Regions from separate parts of the Homo sapiens genome. Here regions 1, 2, 3 and 4 are each linked to region 5. Evidence: fine-mapped expression QTL. A gene starts in region 5. Each other region holds a variant in brackets. All regions are shown on one strand. Distances are from middle to middle.

Region 1 (5,105 bases), 170 kb after region 5:
GAATGGCAGCCAAGTGTGTGTTCATATTGCCATTTGCAGATGAGAAAATTGTACCAGAATCCGGTGGGCTCCATGCTGATCTAGCTGAAACACACAGAAACATGTTAGAATCTAAGCCACCAGGTGCTGTTCAGGTGGCCACAGGCAACTACCAGTTCATAATACCCATTTGTTGATGACCTCAGGGGCTGACGGTGGCCGTTATGGTTTCAGATAAGCGAGCTTCTTGACCTGCTTGTCAGGTGTGTGCCTGAGTGCTCGTGCCAACTGGGGTCTGGTGCAGACCATGGAGGATGAGAGAGTTTTCCTCATTAGGCCTTAGGCTGTCCTAAACTTAGGGAGCAGGTAATGGAGCCAGGATGGAAGGAAGTCAGACTCTAACCTCTGCGCCTCCATTTGAAGGGCTACCGACAGAAGGACTATTTCATCGCCACCCAGGGGCCACTGGCACACACGGTTGAGGACTTCTGGAGGATGATCTGGGAATGGAAATCCCACACTATCGTGATGCTGACGGAGGTGCAGGAGAGAGAGCAGGTGAGGAGTGCCGCCCAGCCCGGTCCCTCCAGGGCAGCCTGTGCACCTGAGGCACTGTCCCCGTTCATTACAAATGTCCCACCTGCCATCACTGCAAACACATGGGTGAGACCAAGCCAGGACCACTAGGGAAGGAGAGAGATTGGAAATGAAAAAGGTTTCATTTCACCCTTTCCCTTTTTGGGAGTGAGGTTTAACCATAGCTACCCGCTGCCCTTTATCCTTAGCCTACATGTTATTTAACCTGCCCTGAAATTCTGCCATTTGGTATTGGCCAAGATCATAACCTGTTGAAGAAAAAGACATTTATTGACTTTTTTCAAGACATGAAGACAACAGTAAACCCAAGGTTTACCAACAATGTACATCTATCTGGGTTCTCCCCCAAGACATAACTACTGCTGTGTATTTGTGTTTTTATTTCTTTGCTCTAAAAAGGAACAGCTTTATTGTGATATAATTCACCTATAATTCATGCAATTCATCTTTTTAAAGGGTACAATTCAGTGAATTGGAGTATATTCACAGAGTTGTGCAACCACCACCACTATCTAATCTGTGATCATTTTCATCAACCCAAAAGGAAACCTCGTACCATTAACAGTCACTCCCCATTCCTTCCTTCCCCTAACCCCTGGCAACCACTAATCTGCTTCCTGACTATGGGTTTGTCTATTCTGGACATTATTATAAATGGAATCATACAGTATGTGGTCTTCCGTGATTGGGTTCTTTCACTTAGCATCATGCTTTCAAGGTTCATCTATGTTGTAGCATGAATCAGTAAATCATTCTTTTTTACTGGCAAATAGTATTTGCTTGTGTGGATATACTACACTCTGCATATCCATTCATCAGTTGATGGACATTTAGGTTGTTTCCACTTTGGAGCTATTATAAATAGTGCTGCTTTGCTTGGTGCGGTTGCTCACACCTGTAATCCCAGCCCTTTGGGAGTCCAAGGCGGGCAGATCACCTGAGGTCAGGAGTTCGCGGCCAGCCTGGCCAACATGGCAAAACCCCGCTTCTACTAAAAATACAAAAATTAGCTGGGCATGGTGGCGGGAACCTGCAATCCCAGCTACTTGGGAGGCTGAGGCAGGGAGAATCGCTTGAACCTGGGAGGCAGAGGTTGCATTGAGCTGAGATCGCGCCATTGCACTCCAGCCTGGGGGACAGAACAAGACTCTGTCTCAAAAAAAAAAAAAAAGTTTCTTGAACATTCAGGTAGTAGTTTTTGTATGGACATGCTTTTTCACTTCCCTTGGGTATACGCCTAGGAGTGTATATACTAGGAGCGGAATTGCTAGGTCACGTCATAACTCTATGTCATAAACTTACTGTTTAACATTTTTGAGGACCTGCCAGACTGTTTTCCTCAGTAGCTGCCCCATTTTACATTCCTACCAGCAATATATAAGGTTCTAATTTCTCCACATCCTCACCAACATTGTCATTGTCTTTTTGATTAAAGCCATCCTAGTGGATATGTTCTTTGCTTTTTTAAAAC[A/G]TCTTTTAAAATCACATCTGTTTATGCCTACGTAGACTGTTGTTTAGTTTTACTTGTGTTTGAACTTTATAGAAAGAGCATCATTACAGCATGTTGTCTTCTGAGACTTGCTTCTTCCACTCAAAATTGTGCTTTTGATATTCTATGTTGATGCTTATGCTGTGGTTCATTCGTCATCATTATTTCATTATATTCCACTGCACAAACTATATCCTGCATTAGCTCAGGTATTCCTTCTCCTGTCATGGGCACTTGAGTTGGTTTCATTTCGTTGTTTTACAAACAGTGCTACCTGTACATTCTTTTTTTAAAACTTTAAGTTCTGGAGACAAGTGCAGAATGTATAGTTTTGTTACATAGGTATACATGTGCATGGTAGTTTGCTGCACCTGTCAACCCATCATCTAGGTTTTAAGCCCTGTATGCATTAGCTATTTGTCCTAATGCTCTCCCTCCCCTCACCCTCCACCCCCCAACTGGCCCCAGTGTGTGTTGTTCCCCTCCCTGTGTCCTTGTGTTCTCCCTACCTGTATATTCTTGTACATGTCTTATGCTGCACTAGGACTAAGATGTATCAAAGAGCCAAAATGCTTCATTGAAGAGTATGTGAAAGTTTGAATTTGCAAGATAATTCCTAATTGCTTTCCAAAGTGGACATCAACAATGTATAAGAGATATCATTCATCTACATACCTAGTATGGTATTCTCAAGGTGTCCTAATTATTGTTAATTGAAAATTAACAAAATATTGTTCATTGTATAATTATTGTATAAATACTATCTTTTTGTGGCTCTGATTTGCATCATTCTGATTCCAAGGTCAACCCCATCACTTCATATATTTGTGGATGACATATTTCCTCTTGTGTCAAATGCCTGTTCCTGCCTTTCACTGATTTTTCTATTGTTTGTCCTTTCTTATTGATTTATAGGAGCTCTTTACGTAATCTTGATACTAATTCTTTATTGGTTTTATGTATTGCAAACATCTTATTGCAATCTGTGGCGTGTCTTTTCACTCTGTTAATGATGTTTGTTGATGAAGAGAAGTGAATGTTACTGTAATCCAATGTTTCAAATTGTTGCATCGTGATTGGTTAGCTGTTTGGGCTCTTGTCTAGTAATCCTTGTGTACCTCAAAGTGAAAAGATATTTCTTCTTCCAAGAGTTTCACAGTTTTGTTTTTTACCTTAAACCTTACTCCATCTGGGTGTATTTTTATTAAGGTTCAAGGCCATGACACGTGGAAGTGCAGGGTGTACACTGCCCAGTTCTAGGAAGAGCTGGGGGCACTCACATCAACCCTGGTAGGGAATGAGTCAGGGATCCAATTTCATTTTCCCCAGGTAGAAAACCAATTTTTCCAGCCCCACATATTGAAGAATCTCTCCTTTCTGCCATATGTTAAGGTTTCATATATATATGTGTCTGTTTCTAGACTCTGTTCTGTTCCCTGGGTCAACAAGCATTAACAGGCATTTATATTCATATTCATATGTTTTTTTTTTTGGTCAGATGAAATACATTAACTGGTTTGAGAACAATTCTGTGTTATAAACTCAAAATCGCCAGCAGCAAATTATTTATTACAAGACTTAAATTTTTATTTTATCCCCTAAGGATAAATGCTACCAGTATTGGCCAACCGAGGGCTCAGTTACTCATGGAGAAATAACGATTGAGATAAAGAATGATACCCTTTCAGAAGCCATCAGTATACGAGACTTTCTGGTCACTCTCAATCAGGTATTGTTGAAGTAGCTCTTTAAACGCTTGTGAATTTAGTGAACCACGCCCTCCCTCTGGGTTCTGCTTGTCATTGAACCAGAATGTGGCCCTGCACCTGTCCTGCTCCTTCACCTAGTCCCATTGGCTATGAATGGCCAATGGGTTTCAGAGACAGTGGCAGGCCTCCTGTACAATTCCCATCTCCCTAGCTGCCTACCTCCCATTTATCTCTCAGGAGAATTACATTAGCCATTAGCTGTAAGAGGAAGAACAAAGGGGACTAATGAAGCCACAGGGGCCTCTCTGGGGCCCTCCTCCAGGTGCCTTCTCAGAGCCCCCCAACTGTCCCCATTTCCACTGGGTCCTTGGTTCTGCTCATCCTCTCTCCTTGGCAAAGAATGAGAACTCGGGGTCAGCTGTAGGTAGGATGACTCACTTGTACACAGGTCTTGATGCTGAGCTCCAAACAGTCAGTATCACGTAATGCACCTGCCACTGTCTCCTCCATGCCAGCCACAGAGCCACCCTGGCCACCAGACTCAGATGCTGCTCATTTGAGCTCTGAAGGGAAATGCAGGGCCCTGGTTTCTTGAGAAAGTGATTCCCTTCTCTCCAGCAGAGCTGCCAAGGATCCCGTAGGGGTTGGGCAGTCCTCACAGGGATCCAGGGGATGTCCTCTGGACGGCTCGCTCCCCCTTGCAGAAGGAAGCACAGCCAGCCACCTGCCTTCTTCTTTAGGACAAGCAGGTTTCAGCCTTCTCCTTCAGGCTGCCTCGGTGGGGATGTTGGCAGCACAGAAGGCTCAGGGAGGGCTCCCAGCCTTGGCCAATCCCTGAGAGGGCAGATGGGGCTGGGGCCTGTTCCCCGGCAGGCAGGCGACGCTGAGACCCCCTCTCCTCCCTGCAGCCCCAGGCCCGCCAGGAGGAGCAGGTCCGAGTAGTGCGCCAGTTTCACTTCCACGGCTGGCCTGAGATCGGGATTCCCGCCGAGGGCAAAGGCATGATTGACCTCATCGCAGCCGTGCAGAAGCAGCAGCAGCAGACAGGCAACCACCCCATCACCGTGCACTGCAGGTGAGCCCCCAGCCCGAAGCCCTCCAGGTGGGGTGGACACAGGCTGCACCCCCCCAGTACCCGCAGCTGTGGGCAGCAGAGCCTGGTCGCTGCCCCTGGCCATGGTATTCCCTAGAGTCTCCTCTCTACCTCTCCTTACACACATGCACACACGACTTCACTTAAGTACATACATGTCATCGTATCATACATAAGATGCATGTGTGTCATCTTAACATAAATGCAGAATGCACTTCAGAGGGTGGAGTTGGGAAAC
Region 2 (5,105 bases), 140 kb after region 5:
CATGGCAGAGCGAGGTTTGCGCTTTGAGGCATCCAGGGCCCCTCTGGGTCCACAAGAGAGGAGTCCAGTGGGCTTCTTGGAGGTGGGGGCCTTTGAGATTGTCCTCGAGGAGTGGGAACATTTTGGTGATGAGGGGGCTGTGTGGCCAGCGGGGGAGGAGCAGGAACAAAGTGCGACGTTGGGAGAGTGGGTGGGGTCCAAAGGTGGCAGCGAGGCCACCAGTGTCCCTTGGAATTTGGGCTGATGAGCCAGGGGTGGGTCCTGAGCAGCAACAAAGCCACTTAGCTGGGCCTGGGGCTGTGGGTCTCTTTCTGGGTGAGGAAGGTCAACCTGTCAGGTACAAAGGACACAGTAAGAGGCCGGTGGTGGCTGGGCACTCGGCCTCTGACAGGTGGAATCGGGACCTGGAGGCTCTGAAAGGTGGGGTCACAGTGCGCCAGGGCCACAGGCCTCTGCCCAGCCCCAGGGCCAGGCCGCCTCCCTGTGCCTGAGCTCCTGCCCAAGCCCAAGGGGCCCTAAGAGCTGAGCTACGCCGAGTCAGCCTCCCGCGCTGTCCTAGGACCCTGCAGTGGACACCGGCCCCTTCACCCTTCTCCAGCTTCTTAGCAGGAGAGCCAGGCAGCCAGGCCGTGTGGGGGTCTGGGGAACTCACCCCTGTCATGCCTGCCCCAGGGATTTTGGACAAGTCACCTCACCCACTCCTCAGTCCCGGATTCTTTCTCTGAGTCAACAGCAACAACTAAAGTCGCTTCTCTGTTACCTCGTGGGGCCTTTTCAGGATGATGGATCCACTTTACAAAATATAGTTTGGGGTTCTGGTGTCCAGGAAGAAGGGCTTATGGAGGGAGACTCTTTTGCAAACTGTGAAGTGAGGTCAGGGGTTAGGGTCTTTCTGCTTCTCCTGCAGGCCCTCCGGACCCGGGCGCCTCCCAGCCGCTGCTGGCCTGGCTGCTACTGCCGCTGCTGCTCCTCCTCCTCGTGCTCCTTCTCGCCGCCTACTTCTTCAGGTAGGAGTGTCCCGGGGCACTGACTTGCCCCAACCAGCTCAGAGGAGGAAATGAGCCTTCTGATGCTGTGGGCGTGGGCTGTGCAGCAGAGGGCAGCTGAGAGGCTGGGTGGCTGGGCCTGGGAGACACACAGAGGCCAGGCCTTAGCGCGGCTCAGCCATGAGCAACAGGAGTAGCTTTTCCCGGCTCACCTGGTGGGTATCACTGTGCCGAGCGCTGTTGGCTCTCGGGGAACCTAGAAGTGTGGAAACCTAACGCATCCTGTGTCTCTAAGGTTCAGGAAGCAGAGGAAAGCTGTGGTCAGCACCAGCGACAAGAAGATGCCCAACGGAATCTTGGAGGAGCAAGGTACAGAAGCTGCTCTCTGGCTGGGGCTTGGGGGAAAATGTGTTCTTTTTTAGCAGACACTGAGGTGCTTTCTGCCTTTAACGTTCAAAGTAAATTTTGAGGTGTGCCTTGCCACTTTCATCTCACTCTACCTGGTATGATGCTGTCATTTAGAATTTCACTATTTCAAAACTTTAAGGATCATTTTTCTCTCGGGTGTGACATGGACGTTTGAGACATTTTTGTTTGTGGCTTTTTTTAGAGAGACTGTTCATATCCTGTCGTTTTCACAGGGTGTTGACATGTAACACTTTTCAGTGAGGCCTTACAATCATTCTCAGATAAGACTGTCTGGCTCAGAAACTATTCAGCTGGGTTTGTACTGCTTTAGGATCCAGCTGGAAAAAGAGACTCGCTCTCCTGAAGTGCTTCATGTTTACAGAGCATCAGAGTCAGCTGGGAGCATTTCCAACTTTTCCATCCGAAGTACAGTTTCGAACTTGTTGTCGCTACTTACAAAGGAACATTGTTTTTCTCTCCATACATAGAGATGAGATGACCGAGAAACGTGTGTAAGGCAGAGGCCACAAAAATATTGCTTCACACCCCAGTGACTACAACTTCCTGGAGTCAGCTTCCTACCTAACTGTAGTCAGTTCTATGGTTTGGGGGAACACACGTGCCGTCAGACTAAAATAGACTCTTAAAACGGACCCTTAGATCATTAAAAGAATATCACCAACAAGGACCCAGCTGAAATGTAGCCTCCCAGCGCTCGCGGGACCCGAGACCTGGTTAGACGATAATGTGGCACCAGGTGCTGTCTTCCTGCCCTCGTTCCAGTCCCCGGTTCCCTGCCCTGAATGTTTCAATAGCAGGAACGGAAGGGAGGAGGGTGCGGCTAGTGAGTAGCAGGGAAGCTCAGCATCACTCATTCTGATCCCATCTGTCACTTGGAGGAATGAGTCTTGGGTGAAGTTTTTGGCTGGGCTTCAGAATGGCTCTGCAGGTGGGGACAGGCCCTTTTGCAAGTGTGACAGCTGGGTTATCATGTTGACCTTG[T/A]CAATATCAGCTCATTCTCCAGGAAGAGAAAGACATGTCCATAACTGTTCTTGCCTCTCACTCCGAACTTGGGGAAGGAATGTGTCCAAGAACTCCCTTATAACGCGTACTTCTCCTTCTCAATGCCCCTTGTCACCCTCCCCAGACAAGGGTGGTTTTCCCTTGGAGCTTATGGGGTTTGAGGAACCAGGAATATTTGTTATGAAGAAGAAAAGGCTGAGAGAGAACGTTCTGAGTTTGCTCCCAGAAGCCGTAATTACTCTTTCTTATTTCCAAACCTGGAAAGCTGAGCTGGAGAGTGAGGCCGTCTTGAATCCTTTTTGGAAGGAGCAGGGGCTGGAGGGAAGGAGAGGTGGGAGGGTGGGTGGATGAGTGGCCTCGGGAGGGGGACAGGCTGTCTCCAATGGGGGAGAGCAGGTGACACTGGGCAGAGGGACGCCCGTCACTTGTAAATGATGTGGATGCCTCACAGGAGGCGAGTGTTTGGATACAGCTGCTCGGGACCCGGCTTAGCCCAGCTATGCGATTTGAGAGAACTGTTCCAGCTCCAGCCTGGTCATTTCTTCAGGAATGTCGTTGGTCAGCTTGGTTACTCAGTCGCCTATCCAGGAATGTGGCTAAATGGCCCCCATGTTTCTTTTGATCCCACAGAGCAGCAAAGGGTGATGCTGCTCAGCAGGTCACCCTCAGGGCCCAAGAAGTATTTTCCCATCCCCGTGGAGCACCTGGAGGAGGAGATCCGTATCAGATCCGCCGACGACTGCAAGCAGTTTCGGGAGGAGTTCAACGTGAGTGTGGGGAGGGCTCTCTGCTGGGTGCCCTGTGGTGGAGACCTGTGAAATCCAGTGTTAGAGTTCAGGATGAATTATCCCAAAGACTCAGAACCCTTGCATCAGTTATGACACTGTCCCATGAATGGGCGTGTGAGGAAACCTGGTGTGTGGTGCAGTGCCCTTTGCCAATGCTTATTTCCTCATTTATAAGATGAGACAGTTGAGTTAGAGGTTTGTGAAGCCTCCTTACACCTCCCCACTCTGAGTGTCAAGTTCTAAAATCAACTGTGGCAGAAACACTGTTATCTCGATAACACAGAAGGCTAGGACCTGAGCGCGGCACGGTATGACAATATCATGGGGAAAGTAACAGAGCCCCAAACCATCCTTTCATGGCTTCTGAGAGCTGGAGCACCTAATCAGAGTAGGCGATGTTCCTCTTCTGAACCACCATCTCGGCATTAATGAAGCAGCTGTGAGCTGCCTTGAGAGAACACTAGCTATATCTGCTTGTGTATCAACATGGGTGGGTGGGTGGGTGGATGGATGGATAAGTGGGAGGGCAGAGGGATGGATGGATGGATGGGTGGATGGATGGATGGATGGATGATGGATGGATGAGTGGGAGGGCAGATGGATGGATGAATGAATGCATGGATGGATGGATGAGTGGGAGGGCGGATGGATGGATGGATGGATGGATGGATGGATGGATGGATGGATGGAGTGGGAGGGCATATGGATGGATGAGTGGGAGGGCAGATGGATGGATGGATGGATGGGTGGATGGATGATGGATGGATGAGTGGGAGGGCAGATGGATGGATGGATGGATGGATGGGCAGATAGAGAAGTAGACAAACAGATATGAGGAAGTATTGTCTTGGATTTTGCTATTCAGTATTTATCCTTGGTCGTGTTTTGAATTTTATGCATCTTCACCTTCTTGCATGTGGCTGTGCTAAGTGTTGATCTTAAAGAGGATAGATTTTCAGCAGGATTGCTAACTGGTCCTGGCTATGCCTGTTGCGTGCTGGCCCTGGCACATCAGTTAATTTCCTTGAAGCTGTCTTCCACCACCTAGGAAGGGGCAATGGAGATGGGCCTGTCTTAATTACCTTGAAGTTGGAATGGGAGGCTCAGACAATGGATTTTGTAAACAACAGTGTTGTGCAGTTGTTATATCTGAAGATGGCATGAATTCTGCTGCAGAAATGAGACTTTACCCAGAAGCAACGTGTGAAGGCATGGGAAGGTGGTGGCCCATGTAAACTGTACATTGCTTGTTTTTTGGTGCAAGCCTCCTCTGCCTTTATCTTACTTCCTTTTTATTGTTTCCAAATGTGTCCCCTTTTTTGGAGAAATTAGGTCATATTGAAAGACAGCTTGAAGCACTATTGTGTTGCAATCTCTCAGCCTGACAACAGACCTTAATTCTCATTTTCAAAATAACTATCCAAGTTTTCAGCTAGCAGATCCCCTCCCCCACCCTTCTCATCCCATTTCCCCTTGCACTTTTGTTTCCCCAAGTGACAGGGGCTGGGCTTGCTGATGGGGGTGTCTGAGTCAGAACCAGCTCAAAAGAGGGGGCCACTCCCAGGGAGGGAGTCCAGGAATAGGGTGGGGCAGGTGAGACACTCACCCCAGGCACATAATTTAAGACAGCACCAAAAGCTCAGCAGTGGGATAAATTATATTTTAACATAACACTTAAAATATCAAAATTATCAGCACCACAGGAAAGGTAACAAATACAATATCAAAATGAATACAGGCAGTCCCTGGTGAAGAAAATAACACGACCATAAAGGAAGACAGGCTTGGGCCGACTGATTTTCCCTGTTGCCCTGGGCCCTGATACATACGGCTTGTCACCACACAGCTACTCATCCTGCCATTAGTTAAAAGTTTCATATTTTGGTCATCATAGATTTTG
Region 3 (5,105 bases), 210 kb after region 5:
GCGCCCTCTTGGCTGGTGGATACTTAGGGTGGATCTGAGAGCCTAGATTCACCCTAGGTAAATTCATGGTACAGGCACACATGGTATATTCACAGATTCTGCAACCTCACAGCCTGGGAGCAGGCGCAGCGCCCCCACCTGGCTCCCCAGAGACAGCGCCCTAACTTTCCTTCATATGGAATTATTTCCGGAAGGGTGGAAGAACTAAAGAATAACATATATATATAACTTTTATAAAAGTCTGATGCCCCAAAGGAAGAAAAGCTTATCATCTGGATTATTAAGAAAATATCTAAAAAATATTAACAAAGGCAAAGAATCTAACTTCCTTAATCAATTTTAGGTTTCTTGATACGTAACACCTTGCTTCTAAAACTATCTATGTGAGGGATGGTTTTTTATTTCCAATCTGAAGTGGAACAAGAATCTTATGACTAAACAATATAAATGAACCACTAATAAAATTATGAATATGTAAAGTATATAATCTCACTTTTGTTGTACGATTACATTCAATAGCCACAAAATTGCTGTCGAATTGCTGTCATATTTACTACATACTCCATTTCAGTACTCACTATATCACAGACCAGTAACAGAACAAACAGTTCCTAGACTGCTGAGTGGCACATATCTAACCCACAGTTCAACTGGCTTTTTGGTTTATTTACTCCCATAGACTAGCAAGTTGCCTGGTGGCTACAGTGTGGGATGCCTCAGAAACTGGCTTCCAGCACGGGAACTGATGACCATCAGATTCAACATTAAGGCTGCTCCTCTAGGGAAGAAGGCAGTACTTAAATGGCAGAAATGGACTGGGCATGGTGGCTCAAGCCTGTAATCCCAGCACTTTGGGAGGCCCAGGTGGGTGGATCACGAGGTTAGGAGTTCAAGACCAGCCTGGTCAATATGGTGAAACCCTGTCTCTACTAAAAATACAAAAATTAGCCAGGCATGGTGGTGTGCACCTGTAGTCCCAGCTACTCGGGAGGCTGAGGCAGGAGAATTGCTTGAACCCAGGAGGCGGAGGTTGCAGTGAGCCAAGATCGCACCACTGCACTCCAGCCTGGGTGACGGAGTGAGACTCCGTCTCAGAAAAAAAAAAAAAAAAAAAGGCAGAAATGTTGAAATTCAAGAGTACCTACTGCTAATTTCAGGTGCACCTAAGATAACTCTCCTAAGCCAAGATATTCCAAGGAGCTCATCTGAAACTAGCTTTAGGAGCACTCTAAAATGTAGGAAAAATATGAATTCTCAGGGCTCATCCTAAGCCTAAATCCCACTAAATTTCCAAGCACATGCCGACAACTGTGTTTTAATAAGCTGTACAACTAAAATACCTCTTCCACACTGATATACTCAAACTATCTAAATTGCGAAGCACGTGTCGACAATTATGTTTTCATAAGCTGTACAATTGGAATACCTGTTCCACACTGATACACTCAAACTATAGGATTCTCTCACAAGACAAAGCACAGGATCCCTTTTCCTGTTTCATGGGTCGTCTATCTATCAAAATAGAGAAGCATCTTTGGCACTCATGATTTTCATAATGTGATTATTTCAGACACATAAAGACGGATGAGTACAATGACTGGGCGACAAAATGAGCCACCAGATAATGCAATTCCCAAATGTTAGCTCTACGTGTTGGGGTTATCCTAATCATGGGTTTGCAAAAAGCTCGCAACATGCTCTAATAGACTTTTTGGCTAAAAGTGTAAGACCAACTTAGTGCTCTGATTTTGAACAATAAAGAGGAAATATCATTTTAGATTATTTTAATACGTCTAAGTTCAACTCGTTTTTATACTTTAGTTACATTTTCCTACTATAACAGTAACCACCCTCTTTGTAACTGATTTCAAGTAAGAAATCATTAAAGCATACATAAATGATTTCATATCATCGAAACGAATCAGCCCAAACTTGGATATTTTCTATCACCTGTTCACGTATTTTTCTTGGAAATTCAGTTGACTTCCTTCCA[T/C]TCTGAAGACTTTCATTTTCATACCTGCAGTTTATAGAACGACAAAGATCCTGATTAAAAATTTATACCCTGGGGCGGAAGTCTCCATATCCACTTAATGTCCAAGGATCAACGAACAAACTTTGGGTTTAGTTCAAGACATCACCTTATACAAAGAAATAAATTTAGAGTTAGAAAAGTGCTTTTACACTAAAAACTAGGATTAGTTGCATCGAGTTTGTTTTGAAATACCACTGTCAGAGGCTGGGGACCCAGATTAACTTCTGATCACTGACGAACAGCCCAGGTATGATTTGACAATATTACCAAGCACCTTCTATGACATAAGCTAATGCACATGAGAGCAAAGTCAAGTTTCTTCTAGTTTAAGTCCATGGAAATCATCGGATGGCTTGGAAGGCCAGCCAGGAAGCCTGTAGGTAACTGAATCTTTCTCACGTTGTGAAGTTACATACTTCAGGGTAAATAAAAAGCTACACTTACACTACAGGGTAACTACAAACCTATATTTTAGAACACTATGATCACTTCAGTTTCCCACACATTCAGTCTGTATCTGAACAAGACAGGTACATCTTAAGAAGATCACCTTTAGCAAGATACATAATTGTCCTGGCAAACCTCAGTGATCAAGTCATAGAAGCAATCCTTTATTTTGCATAATGAAAACTTTTGGCCTCAGTGAAATGACCTGATTTGAATTTATAGGCAACCTAAGTAAGATCTGAAGCAGTCACACATCTGATATTATTTCTCATGGTAGAGAGTTTGGAATCAAGTCTCTCTTTCTAAGATTCACTTTCAAATCTTTGTTGGATGTCTTTAATCATCTGAATTTATCTCAATTTGGATAATATCTTGTTTTGAAAAATAGTTCAGCCCTCCAATAAACATCAAAAGCTTCCTACCTATAGGCCGGGCGCAGTGGCTCATGCCTGTAATCTCAGCATTTTGGGAGGCTGAAGCAGGTGGATCACTTGAGACCAAGAGTTCAAGACCAGCCTGGCCATCATGGTGAAACGCCGTCTCTACTAAAAATTGCAAAAATTAGCCGGGTGTTGTGGCGCGTGCCTGTAATCCCAGCTACTTGGTAGGCTGAGGCATGAGAATCACTTGAACCCGGGAGGCGGAGGTTGCAGTGAGCCAAGATCACACCACTGCACTCCAGCCTGGGTGACAGAGCAAGACTCTGTCTCAAAAACAAACAAACAAACAAACAAAAAGAAAAAGAAAAAAAGAAAAACTTCCTACATAGAAGTCTGTATTCAATAAAAATACTCTTTAAAAATGAAGGCAAACTTCCCAGAAGCACAGTAAAAGAAATGACTAGGGAATTTAAGTGGTGCATTAAAAAACAGCTAATACAAATGAAGACAATAACAGAGATTCATTTAGCAGAATGGATTTTTAAATGACCCAACTAATACGTTGTCTACAAGAGACGCAATTTTGATTCAAAGACACAATCTTTTAAAATAAAAGCATGGGAAAAGATATACCATGCAAACAGCAAGCAGAGGGGAACTGGAGTACTGTACTAACATGAGACAAAATCATCTCAGACAAAAGTTATTCATAGAGAAAAAGGACATTTTATATAAGGATCAATCCAGCAAGAAGATATTCCAGTTAAACACAAGAGGTCACCTGACAACAGGTTCCAAGAGACAACTTAAACCATAACAATTATGAAAAGTTAAAATTAAGGGGGTGGAAAAGTTATACTACACAAGCACTCATCAAAAGGAAATTAGTTTAACCATACTCATCATCCAAAGGAAACATTAAGCAGAAAAGAAAGCACTACTAAAAACAGAGGACATCTCTAAATGACAGAGTTCCATGCACCAAGACATCATTCTAAGTTTGTACACCATAGTACAGCCTCAAAATATACAAAGCAAAAACTGATAGAGATAAAAACAAATCAATCAATCAATCCTCAGTAGGTGATTTGAACATATCTCTTAGAATAATAGTAGGGGAAAATTTACTAAGATTATAGATTTGAATCTAACGGGAGTGTGTGTATCTGTATATGTGTATATATATTACATATTATATATGTATATATTATATATTATATAATATAAATATATTGTATATATATTGTATATGTATTATATATACCATATAGTATATACTGTATACAGTATATACTATATGGTATATATAATATATATTATTATATTATATATTACTATATAACATATAGTATATACTATATAATATTATATATTATATTATAATTATATATGATTATATATAATATATTATAATTATATATTATATAAGTGATATATATAATAATTATATATTACATATATATGAGACACTGTAGAATACAGTTTTCAATTACACAAGGCAGATTAGTAAGATAATTAGCCATATCTGCTCATAAAGCAAACCTTGACACATTTCAAAGACTAGACATTAGTCAAATGTCCATCAAGAATGAATGAATTCTGTATAGTTATGTATATTATTGTATATATTAAACATTTTTTTTTCAGTGAAATACTTATGCCATGAGAAGGAACAAACTACAGAGATGTCCAACATGCTATGAATCTCACACACAGAAAAGCACAAGCCAGGCACAAATGTATACATTCTTGTATCACTGTTAAGGACTTTTATAAGAACAGACAAAACTATCGTGTTCAGAGATCCATGCTTAGGTAGTGAAACTCGAGACGTTTATGATATCCTAAAAGCCAAAACGGTGGTTTACTTGCTGAGGGAATGAAGTAGTGATTAGACAACAGCATTTTTAAAAAGCTTCTGGAAATGTTCTATATGAGCTGAGGATGTATTAGTCTGCTAGGGCCACCATAATAAAGTCCCACAGACTGAATGCCTTGAAAAACAGACATGCCCTTCTCAGTGCTGGAGGCTGGAAGTCCAAGAGCAAGGTGTCAGCTGGATTGGATTTCTCTGTGCCTCTCTCCTTGACTTGAAGATGGCTGCCTTCTTGCTGCCTCTTCTCATGGGCTTTCCTCTGTGCACGTGTTCCCTAATCTCCACTTATAATGACACCAATCATCAGATTAGGGCCCATACTAATAGCTCAAAAAGCCTTCATTGCCTTTTTAAATGCCCTCTTTCCAAA
Region 4 (5,105 bases), 190 kb after region 5:
CCAGCTAATTTTCGTATTTTTAGTAGAGACAGGGTTTCACCATGTTGGCCAGGATGGTCTCGATCTCTTGACCTCATGATCCACCTGCCTCGGCCTCCCAAAGTGCTGGGATTACAGGCGTGAGCCACCATGCCCGGCCTAAATGAATGATTTTAAACCATATCCCTTTTCAAGTCACAGCAGTGCAACGCCTTAAAATCCAAGGCCCGTTTCCCTCTTGCTTTGATTGGTGGGCACAACCCTTAGTTCTTAGGAACCCAGGGGAACAGAGGTTGGGAAGAGAACTGCCGTGAGAAACCCAAATTGTTTAGGTGGCATCTGGGGTCAGCTAGACATTGACGAGGCAGCTCTGTGATGCTGGCTGGGCTTATTCACATTCACGTCTGGGGATTGGCTGGTAGTTGGGTAACCCCAACTAGCCTGGGCTGGGGGGCCGGGGTAGCTCAGCGGTCTTCCATATGGCTGTCGTCTTCCAACAGGCTCGTGTGGGTGAAGGCAGGCACAGACGGTGCACACACATGGCCCATTGCTTCCCCGACCAACCTGGAATCCAAAGGAAGAGGCAGGCGAGCAAAGCGGGCTGTACAGAGGAGGGGGCAGAGGTGCTTCTGAGAGGGGTATCGGACGGTGCTCAGGGAGCCTCAGGGGCCACCTAGCGTTGTGTTACCTCCAAAGCAGTGCTTTCTCGGAGTAACAGAGGGCGGGCCCAGAGCCAAATAGCTGGATTCTGAAACACAAAGAGCTACCACGAGACTAGTTTTTATTACACTAAAAATTCTTCATTAAGTTTTTATCATTGCCAACCTAAATCTATATAAACATATAATATATTTTATGTATATATTATTTTTACTTAAATATGTATGTATATATTTATAACATTTTATATACATATTTGTGTATAAATTTTCATAGATAATATTTATATATTTATATAGAACTTAGGTTGCCAATGATGAAAACCTAGTGAATAATATTTAGTATATTTATATATTTTATATAGTTATGAATATATAATATACTTAAGTTATATACATTACATTAAATATATTTAATTTATATTATACACAATATATTAGATTATATCTATAGTTATCATATTTATATATAAATACATACGCTTATATATAAATATAGGTAACTTTTCCCCTAAGTTGCTCCTATAGTTGTTTTTGGCTCTAGGGGACATGGAAGCAAGCAGGCAGATGAGGGGCCCAGGAATAAGTGACTCACTTCAGCACAAGCTGCATCTCCCGAGCCAGGGTGGAAATTTAGGAATTTGCTGATACACAGTCATGCCCCTCCTCCCTCCCAACATCAAAATTGACAGTGCTGCCTGGCCTGACCCGCCTCCCCTTGCTCATATCAGCCTGGCCTGGATCTGAGACCCCTGCCCAAGAGGGGCCTTGGATATAATTGCACTTCTCCTTTTCCAGACCCCACACAAGAAATAAGAAAAGCCTGGAGTCGTGTCCAGTCCTGACTGCTCCTTTCCCAGAGTTCTAGGCCTCTCGAAGGCTGAGGCCACGCTGGGATAAGAGGAAGACGGCACCGCTTGGAGACCTTCTGAGAATGGGGGCCAGGCTACACAATCCACCCGAGTTTTCTTCTTTTGTCCTCACAACCCTACGAGGCAAGAAATTGCCATCTTCACTCTCCCAGCTAGGGAAACTGAGGCTCAGAAAGGCCAAGCAATGGGCCCAAGTCATGCAGCGAGCAAGGGACAGGGCTGGGATTGGAAGCCAGGCCTCTCAGCTTCCAACGTCCTGGGGCTGGGAGCCGGTGGGGGTTCCAGGGCCCGGGAAGACCCCAAAGCCCAAAGTGAAATGCACCCTCTGCTCATGACCCGTTATATTGCAAGGGCTGCTAATTTCAATGTGATATGTCCTAGGAGGCATATATGTTAAATCACTCATTTCTCTAGATCAGGGATATGCAAACCAAGGTCCTCAGTCAAAATGGGCCCACAGCCTGGTTTTTGTTGTTGTTGTTGTTTTCTTGCTTGTTTTGTTTTGTTTTGTTTTGCTTAAGATGGAATCTCACTCTGTCACCCAGGCTGGAGTACAGTGGGCTGGATCTCAGCTGACTGCACCCTCCGCCTCCCTGGTTCAAGCAATTCTCCTGCCTCAGTCTTCTGAGTAGCTGGGATTTCAGGGGCCCACCACCACACCTGGCTAATTTTTGTATTTTTAGTAGAAACTGGGTTTCGCCATGTTGACCAGGCTGGTCTCGAACTCCTGGCCTCAAGTGATCCACCCGCCTCAGCCTCCCAAAGTGCTGGGATTACAGGCGTGAGCCACCGTGCCCAGCCCCACAGCCTGTTTTTATTAGCCATTTTTTGGACATGCCTGTTTGCTTGCGTGTTGCCTACAGCCGCTTCTGTTCTTTAACAGCAGAGGTGAGTCAGCATAACAGACAGTATGGCCCACGAAGCCGCCATATTTACTGCCTGGTCCTTGACAGAAAAAGTTTGCTAATTGCTGACCTGGATTAAAATCCACAGAA[C/T]CTTTTCTATGCAGGGATGTGCTTCCCTATGTCCTGGCCATGCCTGGTCCCAGCACCACCTGTTTTAGCCAGACCTGTGTCTGGGCCAAGCTCAGCAAAGTTCTGCGATCTGATGTCATTTAAAGACACTGTTGACTGGGCATGGTGGCTCACGCCTGTAATCTCAACACTTTGGGAGGCCAAGGTGGCTGGATCACCTGAGGTCTGGAGTTTGAGACCAGCCTGGCCAACATGGTGAAACCCTGTCTCTCCTAAAAAAAAAATTACAAATATTAGCCAGGTATGTGTGGTGCATGCCTGTAATCCCAGCTCCTCAGAGGCTGAGGCAGGAGAATCTCTTGAACCTTGAAGGCAGAGGTTGCAGTGAGCCAAGATTGTGCCACTACACTCCAACCTGTGCAACAGAGTGAGACCGTCTCAAAAAAAAAAAAATAAAAGACAGTGTTAATATGGTATCAGATTGTGGCTGCCACATCACACATATTCTTTTCTCCTGCAGAGGCCATATTCAGTTTGGATAACCCTGAAATTTGGTTACTCGACTCTTAGTTAAATAATGTTTCTTTGCATTGTTGGTGGTTTGGGTAGTTTTCAATACGTGGGCTCGATGAAGACATAGACATATTATTCAGGATTTTTATTTTTCTTTTTTGAGACAGGGTCTTGCTCTGTTGACCAAGCTGGAGTGCAGTGATACAATCATAGCTCACTGCAGCCTTGAACTCCTGAGCTCAAGCAGTCCTCCCACATCAGCCTCCCAAGTAGCTGGGACTACAGGTATGTGCCACAATGCCCGCTAATTTTTTCTTTTCTTTTTTCTTTTTTTTTTTTTTTTGTAGAGATGGGGTCTCGCTATGTTGCCCAGGCTGATCTTGAACTCCTGGCCTCAAGCGATCCTCCAGCCTTGGCCTCCCAATGTGCTGGGATTACAGGTGTGAGCCACTGCCCCTGGTTATTCAGGCCTGTTACGTTCCAGATTCTTCCTTCACTTCCATAGAGAAATCCCTAGTGATAAAGAATTTATGAGCCAAGGGAAATATCTTGGAGTTTTAGGCATCTAATAAATATATTCATCTTCTGATGATGATGATAATTAGCATGTATTGATGCTTACCAAGCTCTGGGTAAAATGCTAAGTGTTTTACACATATTGTCTCATTTAATCTTCTCAACAATGCTATGTGCTCAGGTACTGAACAGCCTCATTTTACAGATGGGAAACTAGCAAAGTTGAAAGACTGTCCACGTTCACACAGCAGCAAATTAGACAAGCTGGAATTTGCACCTGTGCATTTGACTCCGAAGTCTGAACTCTCTCTAGGAATTTACACTCTGCAAGGGTGTGGAACACATACCAGACATCACATAAACTTTACAAATGATAAAGGAGCACCTGCCCTAACCCCAAGCAGACAGACAACAAGGGCCAGGATGGATTTTAGAACACTCTGACCTGTGAGAGAGGCGGACAGGCCTGCACCAGCTGTATTTCTGTAGTGACATACACAGGTGTATCACGCAGGGAGCCTGTCCAGTCACGGAGCCCTGGGACTGTACCATCAACACAGTTTTTGTTTGTTTGTTCTTCAGGTGACATCGAGAGCTCCCCCTGGGAGGTGGGGTTGGGGATGCTCCTTAGGAACCTCACTGGAAAGATGAGTCAAGCAGGTATCCAAGTCCAATTACCCGGCTCAGGGCTTGACATCACAGATGTGGGACTTGCCTGAGATGGGGCTGATGAGCAGGAAGCTGATTGGGGCCCTTGCAGGGCAACACACAACAAACCAATCAAACCTCCTTCCTGAAATCACTGTGCGCGCTGTGGGGGTGGCAGCGGGGGAGGGGGGGCGTGGCTTCCTGCCAATACATCATGGGTATTATTTGTTCCCTCATGAAGAGCAATAGCAATGAAATCCACATTTCCAAATTATGGAGTGCTGTGTGCCTACGTGGCACTCAATGCCAGTAATACCAGGATGGGGGTTTGGTGACTGTGTCCTGGAGATGCCTTGGGGGTCTGGGAGCACCTGGACAGCACAGAAATCAGTTTCTCCAGCTGTAACCAGAGTGCCAGGAGATTCCTGCAGTTCATCTAGAGGACTTTTCCAGGAAACCCAGCAAACAGTAGGATCTCAGCCACACGAAATCATTTAGTTAAGTAGCTACAGTTTACTTTATGGAGTCGCCGTTTGCCATGTTAATTCTTGATGACAGCCCAGGATGTGGGCTGCAGACTGAACCCACTTCCTTCACCAGACTGACCACCGAGCACGGCTCTCCCTCCCTCCTCAGCCTCTCAAGATGGTAGATGCACCCACCTGCAAACTTTTCTCTCCGACAGAAAGGCCTCTTCTTCAGGACTAACTGACCTACCGCAGGCTACTGCCCCTGGAACTTGCCAGCAAATTCACTCCCGGGATCCATGTCAAATCAGGGTTGCCAGAGGAAAGTCAGGGCATGTATTTTCATCTGCTGACTTGGGGCAGCCCTGGGTCAAATCCCCATCCCTCAACTCAGCACCTCTGTTGCAACAAAGCAGGCACAGCTGCGGTTGCAGGTAGTTCTCGAGATACAGCAGGCCATTCCTGCAGGACTAAAAG
Region 5 (5,105 bases):
AATCCAAAGCCTGGTGACGTCATGTGCTACCTGGCCCCACCTCAACCTGGGCTGTTCCTTGGAGGTGCACTCAGGAGGGAGCCACCCGCCCTGCTGGGCTCCGAGGTGACCAGGCTGTCTGCTGCTGCTGGCTGGGGCCCATCCTCCTCTGCTCTGACAGCCCAGACGCCTTCACTGAGCACCTCCTGGCTACTGACGTTGCTTTAGGAGCTTGAGTCTGAGAAGCCATGGAGATCAACAGAGCCTAGGCTGCTGGAGCTTACAGCCCTGGGGGTAGGGGAAGAGGGCACGACAGACACAAAAGGAGCCAATAAACCCACAAATAATTCCAAACTGTGATGGAGGATGTGGAAGAGAGTGGCAGAAGAGATGGATGCAGGGCGATCTTCCAGAAGCCACCAGTAAGAAGGAACCAGGTGCACTGGTTGGAGGAGTCCCAGGCAGGAAGGAGCTTGGCTCTGGCACTGAGAGAAAGGAGCCGTGATTGGAGCCCAGCGGGCAGGGGTGAGAGGCTCAGAGCAGCCAGGGAAGTCAGGCAGAGCCTCGTGGGAGTTTGGGTTTTAATATTCCTGGAGGCTTTTAAGCAGGGGGCTAGCAGGACCCGGTTTACACTTTGTGAGGTGCCTGGGACCAAGTGTGAAGAATGGATCATCTGGGAGAGTGGGTCAGAAGCTGGGGAGCCACTGCAGGTTTTGGAGGGGCGCAGGCAGTGAGATGAAAGGGCAAGATGCATGGAGAAGCCAGTGGGAAGTGGACTTGGGCCCTCTGGGAGGTGGACTTGAGGTGGGACACGGAGGCAGGGACAGGGACGACTGCAGAGAAACTAAGTAAGAGCAAGAGGCAGGTCTGAGACAGCAGGAGACAGCCAGGAGGAGCTGAGCTTGGAGGAGAGGGCCCCAGAGTGGTGCTGCTTAGAGTCATTCCCATACGGATGGTGTTTAAAGCTTTGGGGCTAGACAAGGCCCCCAGGGACAGAAATGGGCAGGGCAGGGCAGGGAGGTGGAGCTCAAGTTCTCCACTGGTTTCGCAGCTCTCCGGCCCCTGTGGAGGGGAAGTCCCACTCTGGGCAAATCACGTGGGGGTGGCCTCTGCCAGGAGGCACCCATTGCTCTGCAGCCTTTGGGGTCCGTAGCTCTGTCTAAACAGGCCTTAAGTATGCTAAGAGTCGTCGGCTGGCAATCGGTGCAACGTGGGGTAACACACCGTAAGTGCCACTTTCTCCCCATCCATTCATTCATTCATAAGCCTAATGAGCTGGGTCCCTACCACAGAATGCAGCTTCCCTCATGAGGGCTGGGCCGTGGCCCCATCCAGAGGGCACGGCACAAAGGTTCAGAACCAACATGCCACCAGTGTCTTTTCTGCTCCTTCCAGGGAACTGCCTTTTCTCTGAAAGCTCCCTAAATAGCTTGAGTGAAATTCCCTGGAAGAAGTCGGCTAGACAGCAGGCCCAGTGCCTGGCTCTGTCGCTCTTCTTTCTCTTTGTGCGTTTTTAACTTTGACAGATACTGCCTTCGGGACAAGCGAGCCCTCTTCTACATCCCCCAGACAGGCGCCTTATCCCCTCCTCTTTCCAGAGGAGGCCACCAGGCCCAGCGACCTCACAGCTCTCCCAGCTTCCTCGCACCAGAAGCGCACGGGGTGCCCTGCGTGTCCCACACCTGCTGCAAGACCAGGGCGAGTCCCTAGTCAGGCCACTTCCTGGTGCACAGGGATAGGGCAGGGAGAGGCAGGGCCTTGCCTTTGCTCTCCACCAGGTGTGAGTGCCTGCCATACCCTGACCCTCTGTCTACGCACCTGGGTCCCGGCGGAGTGGCTGGACCAGGCCTCCCCGGAAGGGGCACCAGCCTTGAGTAAACGGATGCCCACAGTGTCTGGGTGCTCCCAGGGCAGGGCCGCAGGGCCTCAGGGCCATACCCGCCTCGCAGGTGGGGCGGGCGCCCTGGATGCGCTCCCCGCGCCGGGCACCAGGCGTCGCCCCCGCTCCTCGCAGCGCCCAGGCCCCCGCCCCCGCCGCGGAGCCACAGCCGGAGCTGGAGCCGAGGCGGCGGCGGGACGCGGCCGGCCGGACAAATTTCCTGCTAGGCTGCGGACAGCGGGCGGCAGGAGCCGGCGCGAGCGGCTTCAGGAACCCACGGCCTCTGCGCGTCCCCGCGACCCTTCTTCGCGCCCGGCGAAGACAGCCGGGCGCCCCGGAGGGCGGCGGGCAGGCGCCCGGGAGATGCGGAGCCTCCGCTGCAGCGCGATCTGCGCGACCAGACCGGCCCCCCCGAGGTGAGCGCGCGTGCGGACAGGGACCCTGCGCCCCTGTGGGGAACTGTGCACCCCGGGAGGCCCAAGCAGGCCGGGGCGCTGCCTCGGCCGCTGCCGCGGGAGGGAGGGGCCGCTCCGGGGCTCAGAGTCCGGACCCCGGCCCCGCCGCCCCCGCGGCGCGCCCAGTACCAGCGGCTGGGGCCCGTACGACCCCCGACCCCGGCCTGTGGCGCGTCCCCTCACCCGGAGTCCCCAGCCCAACTTGGCGACCACAGTGGCAGTGCTCACGCTCCCTCTCGGTAAACAGGAGGAGGGCGCGCGTGTCTGCGGGTGGCTACAGTGCGCGGGGGCCGGCGGCAGGGCGGCGTACGTGAAAGCGGGCGACACAGAGAGGGGGTGCAGGCCGCGCGTGGGGGGCTGCGCCCACTCGAGGCTGGAGGCTGGAGCCTTTGAAGAAAGTGGCTCGAGTTGTGCCAACTCTGGGAGGGGCCGGCGCTCTGCCAGGATGCTGCCCCGCAGCCGGGCGGGCGCCCGCGCCTTCCCAGGGAGGCAGGTGGAGCGGGATGCAGCAGCCGCCGGGGGTCGGAGATGCGGCAGGGAGACCCTGGCAGGTGGTCCAGGCTGGACTGCCGCGATTTGCAGGGTCGACGACCTCACAGGGCTCCTGAGCACAGATGCGAGCGCGGTGCCAATTCTGAGAGCTCCCGGGACCATCTGGGGAAGGCCGGGCAACCCACAGGATGGGGAGGCAGAGCCAAGCCGGATGGAGACCGCGCTGGACCTGACCTAAATTCCTTCCAGGCATGCAAACCTTTCCAGAAAGATTAGGCAATTATACTTGCAGAATTATGATATTGGTTTGTCTTGAGTCGTGACCATTCCATCAGAGTTTCAATCCAGGAAACTCAAAGAAAGAATACAGCTCTCTGCTTGTATTTTAGAGTGAATGAGCGTATAGGTGAGTTGAATGAACACCAGCAAAGAGTGATCACGTGATACAGAAATTACTGTGTCCATGTCCAGTCAGCTCTGCATTTGGCCCCAGGTACCCCTTGACCCAGGGCGTCTGGAGGTCTTTGTGTCCCAAAGATGGATGAAGTTCTGCCTCTGCACACTAACGACTCTTGTCCATTTAAACTGTGTGTATGTGGGTGGGGAGGGGGGGTGTGGAGGGTCGTTTCCAAAACTGGGATAATGGCCAGAGGAGGGCATGAAATGGTGGGGGCCAGTGGCTGGGGCAAGCGTCTGACCACCACGGTCACTCAGCCAGCATGGTATGGGCAGAGCTCTGTGGTGTGAACAGGGTTAGGGTCTGTACTTTCCAAGCACAGGCTCTTGGCATTTGGGGAGCAAAAGGTCAGAGGCGAGGTGGAGCAGGCCCAAGAGGTGGGGGCTGCGCTGTCAGTGAGAGAGGCCTGACGTACCACCCAGCCCTTCCCAGACAAGGCTCTGCCCCTGAATCTGACCTTGGGGGCCAAGATTTTTGTTCATTGATGTTGGTGATGCCTGTGAGTCACCACCGCCCCCTCCCTGCCCCAACAGACCGTTCCCATGTGGACAAGAGCTAGGAGCTAGATTTGTCTCTGTAAAAGGTCAGGTCACTGGATGTGTCCAGATGGCTTGGGACTTAGTCACACACTCCCTCATCAGTTCCAGTCAAACCAGTTGAGGGAAGTCGATGAGGGTGTTATTGTCTTTACGTGTGATGCTTCTTGGAGGCCCTGTGTGGACACAAAGTGAGGACAATGCGGAAAGTCACACAGAGGCCACCTCTCATTTCTGTGGGGGACAGCTGGCAGAGAGAGATGCGCTCCCTGTGTCAGCACCGCCACCTCCACGGAAGCCTGGAGGAGGTCCTGAAGCACTGTGCCCTGATGGGAGCCCCCTCTTCTCCAGGGATGCGTGTGTGCAAACCATTGCCCCTGAGAGTAGATGCGGCTGTGTGTGTACATCCTTGCCCCTGAGAAGAGAGGTGGCTGTGTGTGCAAATCTTGCCCCCAAACCCCAAGAGAAGATGCATTCACAGTGGGGGTGATGGTAGATGCATCAGTTTCAACTGGTGAAAGTATGCTTCTCCCAGCTGTGCCTCAGTGGGTCCACTGTGCTCCATCTGCACCACCATTAGCCTAGTCTAAGGTGCACCGCTGATCAATATTCCCTCCCTGAAGGCCAGAGGTGTGTTTCTAGGCCCGGCCACTCCTCTGTAGTTCTCCTCCGCAGCTGCCCACTTGACATTTCTCCCTGGGATATCAAATGCCCCTTGACTCAATGCGTCAAAATCAAACTTGTGATCTCCCCTCCCCTTCCAGTACTTTCCCAGTGTTGTCTTTATCCATCCAATTCCACCAGCCTCCATGTTGCTTCTGAAATGTATGCCAGACTATAGTTTCTGTGAAGAGAGGGCAATACTGTATCTCCAGTGCCCAGCCATGTGCCTACCAGTGGAGCCTTGAGGACTACTGTCCATGGATAAACAACTTGGAAGTGAGACCTTCCCGAAGCGCATGTGCTGATGGAGCAAGTGTGTGTCTGTTGCGTGGATGTTGTATGGTTGATAGGCAGCCACACATTTTTGCCGATGTGGATGGGCATGGTCCATCCAGGGCTCATGTGGCCAGCCCTTCTGGAGATGCTGGACTCACCTGCTAAAATGACTGCTGGCTTGGACCAGAGACACCCCAAGTGACCTCCCAGGGAGGCAGGCTTGGGAGCAGGGAGGGAACAGGATCGAAGCTGCCCCGTATTCCCTTGCTAGACAAGTCTTTTTCATTTATAACATTTGAGTCACCCTCACAGAAGTTCTGTTGCCAAAGCAGGAATGAATGTATCCATTAGGGTAAAGACTGGCCTTC

Direction of the effects. Positions count from the first base shown, and alleles are read on the strand shown. Sizes are in standard deviations (SD) of each study's normalised expression. Not every link is listed here.
For the expression in thyroid of the gene that starts at base 2,068 in region 5, T is the low allele of the variant in region 4 and C is the other (small effect, 0.15 SD a copy in GTEx).

The links. PIP is the estimated chance that this variant, and not a neighbour inherited with it, causes the effect.
Region 1: its variant is the best candidate, but not a certain one, in a credible set for the expression of PTPRE in whole blood (TOPMed, PIP 0.51).
Region 2: its variant is the best candidate, but not a certain one, in a credible set for the expression of PTPRE in whole blood (INTERVAL, PIP 0.78).
Region 3: its variant is the best candidate, but not a certain one, in a credible set for the expression of PTPRE in whole blood (TOPMed, PIP 0.63).
Region 4: its variant is the best candidate, but not a certain one, in a credible set for the expression of PTPRE in thyroid (GTEx, PIP 0.52).

What each region holds. Positions count from the first base shown.
Region 1 is chr10:128,072,935-128,078,039 of GRCh38, forward strand. PTPRE (protein tyrosine phosphatase receptor type E) reads left to right here. Exons shown (of 21, transcript NM_006504.6): 17 at 403-537; 18 at 3,669-3,794; 19 at 4,683-4,849. Among named protein-coding and RNA genes, the nearest start is that of AS-PTPRE, 13 kb to the left of the region's middle. RefSeq lists an enhancer at 4,959-5,105. The variant A/G (reference allele first, on the strand shown) is at 2,048.
Region 2 is chr10:128,046,483-128,051,587 of GRCh38, forward strand. It overlaps PTPRE (protein tyrosine phosphatase receptor type E), which reads left to right. Exons shown (of 21, transcript NM_006504.6): 4 at 908-1,007; 5 at 1,282-1,355; 6 at 3,048-3,184. Among named protein-coding and RNA genes, the nearest start is that of AS-PTPRE, 13 kb to the right of the region's middle. RefSeq lists enhancers at 887-956, 1,257-1,306. The variant T/A (reference allele first, on the strand shown) is at 2,397.
Region 3 is chr10:128,117,303-128,122,407 of GRCh38, forward strand. It overlaps MKI67 (marker of proliferation Ki-67), which reads right to left. Exons shown (of 15, transcript NM_002417.5): 5 at 1,951-2,017. Among named protein-coding and RNA genes, the nearest start is that of MKI67, 6.6 kb to the right of the region's middle. The variant T/C (reference allele first, on the strand shown) is at 1,994.
Region 4 is chr10:128,091,391-128,096,495 of GRCh38, forward strand. No RefSeq gene overlaps it. Among named protein-coding and RNA genes, the nearest start is that of AS-PTPRE, 32 kb to the left of the region's middle. RefSeq lists enhancers at 1-498, 499-998. The variant C/T (reference allele first, on the strand shown) is at 2,506.
Region 5 is chr10:127,905,036-127,910,140 of GRCh38, forward strand. It overlaps PTPRE (protein tyrosine phosphatase receptor type E), which reads left to right and starts at 2,068. Exons shown (of 21, transcript NM_006504.6): 1 at 2,068-2,274. RefSeq lists a silencer at 1,912-2,031.